Regions from separate parts of the Homo sapiens genome. Here regions 1 and 3 are each linked to region 2. Evidence: fine-mapped expression QTL. A gene starts in region 2. Each other region holds a variant in brackets. All regions are shown on one strand. Distances are from middle to middle.

The links. PIP is the estimated chance that this variant, and not a neighbour inherited with it, causes the effect.
Region 1: its variant is fine-mapped to the expression of PRDX6 in whole blood (INTERVAL, PIP above 0.99).
Region 3: its variant is fine-mapped to the expression of PRDX6 in whole blood (TOPMed, PIP above 0.99).

Annotation. Positions count from the first base shown.
Region 1 is chr1:173,504,063-173,506,824 of GRCh38, reverse strand. SLC9C2 (solute carrier family 9 member C2 (putative)) reads left to right here. Exons shown (of 28, transcript NM_178527.4): 26 at 1,494-1,578. Among named protein-coding and RNA genes, the nearest start is that of PRDX6, 28 kb to the right of the region's middle. RefSeq lists an enhancer at 816-2,015. The variant A/G (reference allele first, on the strand shown) is at 1,535.
Region 2 is chr1:173,476,043-173,478,804 of GRCh38, reverse strand. It overlaps PRDX6 (peroxiredoxin 6), which reads right to left and starts at 1,470. Exons shown (of 5, transcript NM_004905.3): 1 at 1,313-1,470. The coding sequence starts at 1,407. It overlaps LOC100506023 (a long non-coding RNA gene), which reads left to right and starts at 1,650. Exons shown (of 3, transcript NR_037845.1): 1 at 1,650-2,173. RefSeq lists enhancers at 1,272-1,431, 1,929-2,465 and a silencer at 1,502-1,671.
Region 3 is chr1:173,508,085-173,510,846 of GRCh38, reverse strand. It overlaps SLC9C2 (solute carrier family 9 member C2 (putative)), which reads left to right. Exons shown (of 28, transcript NM_178527.4): 24 at 1,148-1,279. Among named protein-coding and RNA genes, the nearest start is that of PRDX6, 32 kb to the right of the region's middle. The variant A/G (reference allele first, on the strand shown) is at 1,338.

The DNA of each region.
Region 1 (2,762 bases), 28 kb before region 2:
CTCTTCACGGTGCTCCAAAAGTGACTTTAAAACTCAACTGATCACCTTAAAAAGAAATTTAACCTGGAATGACCCTGTAGTTCTTACTTGCCTTTTACAAACAGTAAAAATGTACCTAGGGCTTCTGTGTACTGTAATACAGGTGCCCTACACAAGGGTGTGCCCAAGGGACAGGGAGCTGAAATCTGCCTGCTGTTTGCTTGCCACGCCCTTTGCCCTGGCGTGGGGCTGTGCCAAAGGAAGGATGAGATGCTGTAAGTTTTCCCTAGTTTACGCCAAGGCAACGATGCCGTGTTCTAGCATAGCTCTGGAAGTATCTGCACTGGTTGACAAAAAAGGAGTAGAGTAGGGGCCACATCACTTTGTTGACACATTAGGGGCTATGGGCACTTGATAGTAGATCCTGGGCCCTGGGCCTCAGCATTCCATACCTCTGTAAAGACAAAGGAAGTGTGACCACCTAGGACATAAGAGGGCATGGGAAGGATAGAAGCAAAGTCCCTAATGGCCCAAGCTGCCTGCCACTGGGCAAAGGAATGGGGAGGACCCAGAGGCCATGGGAAGAGCTGACTGACATCTCTTTAAATCTGGCAGTAAGTTTCTACCTTATGGGAGAGACCTTTTCTCCCAGTTCAGGCTGTGAAAAGTCATTATGAAAATTTGTCCTGGAAAAGTTGGTAAACCTAAAAAATGAATTTTCTTCTTTCAAAACATTCTTATTTTGTACCTTTCATCAATTCAGATGATGAAGGTAATTTACATGTTTTTAATAGAAAATTAAAATCTTGTTTAGCTTTGAAACAAAGGATGGAGGCAAGAAGCAAGGAAGCAACAGGAGTAATACTGCAGCTTAGTTTCTTAAGAGACCAGGGTTTGGAGTCAGGCACACTTAGGCTTAAAACTTGATCCCTGTGCCTACTTGTACTTGAGCTTAGGTAAGTTGCTTAACCTTTCTGACCCTCAATTTCCTTCATGGTAAGATAGGGATAAGGTCAGCAGCCATCTTATCGGGTTATTGGGAGGATTAAATGAGATAATATGTGGTAATCTAAAAATGATAGTTATAATGATTACTTGTTTGATGCTGGCATTCTGGGAGGCAGATTTTATGGCACATGGGACAAATGGTCTAAGAAAGGAAGACAGTCTTGCCATCCTGGGAATGCTGAGCCTTGAGCCCTTGAGCATCAGTGTAGGAGTAAAAGTAGCTTACTGGATGCTGGGGATTCCCTGCTTTCCAAACTGGGAATTTCCAGCCTAGTTATGAGTAAGGTGTAGAAATTTCCTCTCTGGTGTCTAAATATGCAAGGACAATTTGTTGGTCTAAGACTTCTCAACATCAAAGAGGATTTGAAATTTAGAATATAGAGCCAAGATTGAAGACCCAGCTTTAGGCTTTGGCTTATTTTTTATACTCTTTGGAAAGATTAGGAAGCAGCCAGGTTAGAGATCAAAGAATGCTCTTTTGACTAATTTTGACTTTTCTCCTCTAGGTTCAGGGAACTTCTGATTTAAGCAAGCTGCTGATAATCCA[A/G]GCATCTGAGCTTACCCAAAGAAATAGTAACACCAATGTCATGGGTAAGGGGTAGACCTTTAGTGGTAGGAAAACTATTGAGAAGGAACTTCAATACATGTAAAATTCCTTTAACTCTAAGAAAGTGATTTGAGAGGGCACTATGTGGGTTTATCATTAGTCCCCATCCTTGGGCCCACCCTGGCTGCCACATTGCCCTGGGAGGTCACATATGAGAGACTTCCAGACCCTAAAATCCAGGTGGCTCCTTCCTCTGCCATGTCCCTCCCTCCATACACTAGTCAGGGGAGAGCAGCTTCTGCAATGCACTCTGTTGCTGCCCTGGTAGGCTGCAGCCACATGGTGCTGGCAGTGCAAGAATGGGGAGGGAACAGACTCTTTCACAGGAGCCCAGGTATGGGGAACTGGTTTGCTCCCAGCAACTGAAGGGAATAGGAAACCTTACCCATAGTCAGTGAGTATTCCATGGTCACAGCTACAAGTCAAATGACTTGCCTTGAGTATGCCTTGATAGTCACTGAGTAGCTATAGTTACATTTATTAGCATCCAACTGCATGCATCATGGTGCTAAGCATTATACAGAGAAGACTTGATAGGAAGAGCTTGCTCTAGAAAAAACACACACAAGATCTTCCATCTTGTGCTCAGCATCCCTGCCCTCCCAAGCCCAATGACAAAATTCTCCCAGCTGCCCCAGCTTGAGGACACACTCTAGCTTTGTAACTCTAACTTGCACCATCCCAGTGTTTACAATTCATGTGATCCATCAGTTTAGCTATTATGCAATTCTTAATGGATTGTTGCTTTGGGGGGAGGATTTGCACGATTTCAAATTGTGTGCGAAGAGTGACGTTTTCTCAGTCTTATATCTCACTGTTTCTCAATTGCTTGCTTTTTATAAAATGCAGCCCCGCTGTGTGCTGGGTACTGTGCCAAGTGCCAATTGGTGAGTGAGCCAGATAAGGTGTTTGCCTTCATAGGGAGGAGAGACAGATATTCAATAAGTAATTAAGCTTTTCCCTTGGCAGCAATTTGAACCTCAGAGGTTCCTGTGGCTCACCCTCTTCTAGGGTCATATGCAGCACTGTGATTTAGGGAGCCCCCTCTGCTCCTGGGTCACCTTTCCAAGTTGGCTAGCACTGAGATGACCATTTCCCCAGCTCACAGTCTCTGAAGGTCTGCCGCTCTGCTGCTTTCAAATCACTCTTGGGGCACAGGAGTCTATGG
Region 2 (2,762 bases):
TAAGAGGTTATAAAGGGTTGGATAGGCATATGATGTGTAAGAATCTGTCCCTGGTTCTCTGCACAGCCCTGTCCAATCACTGATTAATTTCATAAGCCTGTCTCCCTGGATACTGTATATAAAAAGGATATAATCTGGGGAAGAACTGTTGTCAAGCCTTGGAGCCCCACAGTGTAGTGGGACCACTAGTACTCCAGAACCATAATATAACTAGACATGCCTGGAATGCTTCTGATGAAAACTAAGCAACTTCCAGTTTGCTGATTCAGGAGCTGTTAAAAAAAAAAAAGGGCAACACCGATTTACTACTCCTATCCATAATGGTAAAACTGCCAAGTCAGATCACAGGTCATCAATTTGGCTATCATCAGCAAGCTCATGTGCTAGAAGCAAGGTAGAAAGCGGAGGGGACAGTGAGGGGCAAGCCACTGGAAAACAAGAGAGTCTCAAAGTTGGGGAGTACACGTGTCCTGGAGCCTGGAACGGCCATCACTAGCAAGAATAGGCCACTCCAGCGGAACAGCGTCAGAAAGTCCTTCCCTCCAAGTGTTGCAAGTTCTGGAATCTCTGAAGGCACACCTACGCAGAGTGTTCTTGGCTCTTCCTAAAGCTGTTATCAAATCATATCTTGGCCATTGGAGGCGGCTCTGGACAAAAAGTCTTTCGGCCACCTACTTGGCAGCTAGTGGTTTTAAATTTCACATTTTGTGCCCAGAAGCCTGCAAATACCACTGCACCCTCAGATGATACGTTGGCCTTCCTGTAACCTATAGCCAGCAGCTGTGTCCTCCGACTTTGGCTTTAGACACCCATCCTCCCCAGGGAGCAAATTCCAGAACGGAGGGTGGGAGGGCGGTGCGACCCTGGGCACTAGTCCGGGGAAGTGATCGTCAATGCCGCCCCGCCCCTGCGCCCTCGGCCTGACCACGCTACCTGCACAGTTTACTAAGACGAGTTAAATGGACAACAAACCCTCCCGCGGGCGGTGAGTTTCCAGAACCCGCAGAACACAATTTTATCCTCCCCACCCCCCACCTTGGCGTGGCCTTGCCCAGCCACGCCGGAGGCGGGGAGGCCAGGAGGGATCGAGTGGCCCGCGCAGGGCAGGCCGAACGGGTGCCAGCTCCCAGCAGCGCAGCCGACGCTGAGCAGAGGCCACACGGCCTGGCGCGCGCCGGAACCAGTGCGGGGGAAGGCGAGGGCGGCGCAGGGGGCTGAGCGGCCGGGAGGACGGCAGGGAGAAGAAACAGGGAAGGCACCTCCGAGTCCGGCGCAACCGAGGCCAGGACAGGGCTACGCGGTGGCCACTTACGAGTCTCCCAGAAAGTCGTGGAAACGGATGCGGCCGACGGTGGTATTGGCCTCAAAGTTGGGAGCCACGTCCCCGAGAAGCAGACCTCCGGGCATGGCGACGGTGATGAGGGGGCGCCGCTGGGACAGCAAGCAACCGGTTGGTTCTGGCGAAGAAGCAGCCTGTCCCAGCGCGCGGAGGAATAAACGAAGGCGCGAGGGGCGGGGACTGGGGCGGCGGGGGCGGGGCCGCGGGAGGCCGGCCGCTGGGGGCCGGGCCGCGGGGGCTGGGCTGGGCGCGGGGCGGGGCGGGGCTGGGCGCGGGGCGGGGCTGGGCCGGGCCGGGCTGGGGCCGGGACGCGGCGCGAGCTGGACTACCGCGGTCGCTGTTGGTGGCGCCGCCGGGCCTGCGACTAGGTGGCATCCTTCAGACACTATAGGCCGTCTCTGCACACGTGATGCGGGGCTCGGTCACGTTGCCCCCTGGAAGCTTGAGGATGCGCCAGGTTTGACTCTGCAGGGCGTACGCGCTTTAGGGATGGAAGGAAGAGGAACGCGGCAGGAAGGCGAGCCCCAAGGTGGAGAATCGCCTGGGCGCGCAGGCTGCGGCGGCTTCGCACAGCCGCCCTGGGCGCTGCACGGGTCCGCGCGCACCCTGCTGCGCACCCACTCGCGGCCAGCTCCCTACAGAGGAGTGGAGTGACTGCTCGACTACCACCCCTCTTTTAGTGTGAGCGTCTGGAGTCCTGACCGCCCCAGCCAGCCCAGCTACGATGAACTGTCTAAGAGGATGTGGCAAGACCCAGAAGTATGGGTGACCTTATGTCAGAGGAAGTGGCTTTCTTATTGCAGCAAAAATTCCCGTACCAATGTCAGTGCTAGGGTAATGTAACTAAACTTTTATTTATTTTTATTCTGCCCTCCCCTTTCTGTTTGTTATGAACCATAAAATATTCAACACAATTATCTTGAAATCTAAATATAAAATTTAAAACATACTCTTTGAGACCTACTGTGTGCAGGTCAACTCTGTCACCCAGGGAGGTGGGCGGCTTAGATTCATTTATTTGCTATGAGCCAAGTACAAGGTAGATAAGATGCCTGTCCTCTTGGAGCTTTCCTTCTTGTGAAGGGAAACCGGTGACAGACAATAAGCACACAAACCAAAATATGTTAGACAGCAATCAGTCGTATTCAGAGAACTAAAATAGGGTTATGTGCCTAGAGGGTGACTGGGGGGCTGCTTTGGTTTGGGTGGTCTGGTCTGGGAAAGCCACCAGGATAATGTAGGTAAACTAGTCAGCTCACGGTAGGTGCTCTGGAAATGGTAGCTATCGTTTGGATGATGACACTGGCTCATGCAGTAACTCTTGCTTTGCCTGCTGTGTGCTGGACACTGTGCCAGGCCATACAGTGGAGAAACACAGTCCCTGCTGTTACAGGGAAGGCATATTTATATGCAATTATAATAA
Region 3 (2,762 bases), 32 kb before region 2:
AAATACCCAAAGGAATATAAATCATTCTACTATAAAGACACATGCACATGTATGTTTATTGCCACACTATTCACAAGAGCAAAGACATGGAACCAACTTAAATGCCCATCAATGATAGACTGGATAAAGAAAATGTGGTACATACACACCATGGAATACTGTGCAGCCATAAAAAGGAATGAGAACATGTCCTTTGCAGGGACATAGATGAAATTGGAAGCCGCCATCCTCAGCAAACTTACACAGGAACAGAAAACCAAACACTGCATGTTCTCACTCATAAGTGGGAGTTGAACAATGAGAACACATGGACACAGGGAGGGGAACATCACACACCAGGGCCGTTTGGGGATTGAGGGGGTGAGAGGAATGAGAGCATTAGAATAAATAGCTAATGCATGGGGGGCTTAAAACTTAGATGACATGTTGATAGGTACAGCAAACCACCATGGCACACGTAGACCTAAGTAACAAACCTACGCATTCTGTACTTGTATCCTGGAACTTAAAGTACAATGAAATAATTAAACAAAAAAAGAAATGAGCCAAAGAATTCTCAATCTTTGGAGACTATATGATGCAAAAGAGCAGGATCCAGAGTCTTAGGGGTGTGTGGAGTGGAAGGAAATGTTGTTTTAGCTATTTCATGTCATTTCATTTTTGGAAGAGGAGAGAAGGCATGAGTTTAGTCATAAGGCTGAATTGAATTCACTGAAGTTCGTGTAACTTGAATCTGAAAGTGTATCTTTTTTATTCAGCTAAACTATTTGCCTCTGGAAACAAATACTGTGAATGAGCTCATGTTATCTACCATGACAATAAAAATAGATAAGTTCATATGGCTTAGTTCCTGAATCCTGGACTTTGGGCTCATGAGCCATATCCTTCATTATATCTATTGACTGATATACATTTTTCTGGTCTCTTATTAAAGTCTATAGCTTTAATCACACCATACATTTTATCATCTTATACTTAGCAAACAACCATTTTCACAATACAAATGCTTCTAAATGACAAGAGTATCATAATTATGCTAGAATTGATAGTTTTTCTGAAGGTTAAATCTGCAGGCATCTTGTTTTTTGATGGTCTTGTAATTTAGTTCCACATCAAGCTGCTATGGCCTGGTTCCTTTTTGTTTCAGGCCTGCTTTATCTCCCTGGAGGATTTATATGAAGGCTTTGATGCCTTCTGGCCATCTCTGGAATATAAAATATGGCTAAAGCTTGCTCTCAGTACTGCCTATCAGTATTTTGAATCAAGTCTTATTGATGAGGTAAGTTATGTGATTAAAATATTAATAAATTGAATTTTTATGCATTGTATTTTTTACA[A/G]AATGCATTTCATATTTTTGAGACAAAAATAGAAAGGAAATTTGTGTTTGATTTTTTTTTTTTTTGAGACAGAGGCTCACTCTGTTGCCCAGGCTGGAGTGCAATGGTGCAGTCTCAGCTCACTACAACCTCTGTCTCCCAGGTTGAAGCAATTCTCCTGCCTCAGCCTCCCAAGTAACTGGGATTATAGGCGCCTGCCCCCACCTCTGGCTAATTTTTTTTATTATTAGTAGAGACAGGATTTCACCATGTTGGCCAGGCTGGTGTTGAACTCCTGACCTCAAGTGATCTACTCACCTCGGCCTCCCAAAGTGCTGGGATTATAGGCGTGAGCCACTGTGCCTGGCCCTGTGTCTGCTTTTCTAAAATGAGATTGCTAGAATTTTAACTGCTCTCTTATCCTGAGTTCCTACAGGTTGTCAATCCTTTTGTCACAGCTAATTTTCCCAAGCTACTTGCAATCATTTCTAAAAAAAAAAAGAAGGTAGATTTAGCAAATTCAAAATAGGTAGATCCCCCCCTGAACCAAGCATAGTGTTAATCAGAATGTGTTAACAAACGCTCTGTCTGTATTTATTATTGCCTACTCTGCCGATGTTAATATAAGTCTGTAAATCTCCTGCCTTTTCAAAATCTTTGTGGAGGTGACTGAGCCTCTCTCATGGACTTCCCCTCCAAAGAGTAGTGGTTCAAGTTTTCTCTGGACAAGCACAATTTACAATCTCACATTTGTATCCTATTTAGTAACTATTGGAACCCTTACTAGCTAGTGAGTCAGGAACTGGGGAAGTGAACTGGGAAAGATTGGAAGTTCAGTAATATTCACTGAACTGAGCGACTGGGTATAAATAAATATTGGGTTAAAAAATGAGTGTGTCATACAAGCCAGTCAGGTTTCTTTTACTTTATTGCAATAATAACTTTCAGAAAAATTTTAGCAGAGGGATAAGGGGATTGGAATTCTTCTCTTTTCCTTTTACCTTGCATCTTCATGAGAAGTGGGACAAATTTAGAGTCTAGTATGAAACTTCAGGGGTGAGAATTAGGACCAATGGGTAGAAACTGTATGGACTCAGACTTGACTCAATAATAAGATGAATGTCCTTTAAATTTTTTTAAATTCACAAGCAACACATATTCATTATATAAATGAGAAAGTACAGATATAAAACATTAAAAAAATTGTATTTATTATTAAATAGAGAATCTCTATTTAATACTTAGTTTCTTTCTTTTTTTTTCCATTAAAGAACTAGCCAATTAAGATTTTTTTCCCTCTAAATCACAGAACTCAAAATGTATATGCATTTTAAAATCAAACCAAAACAGCTGATTTTTTTTTAGATTTTCTGGTTGTGAAATACTAGATACATTTGCTAATTTTTAAATGTTTTTGGTTCCCAGTTGTGCTGGTGCCCTCAGCAA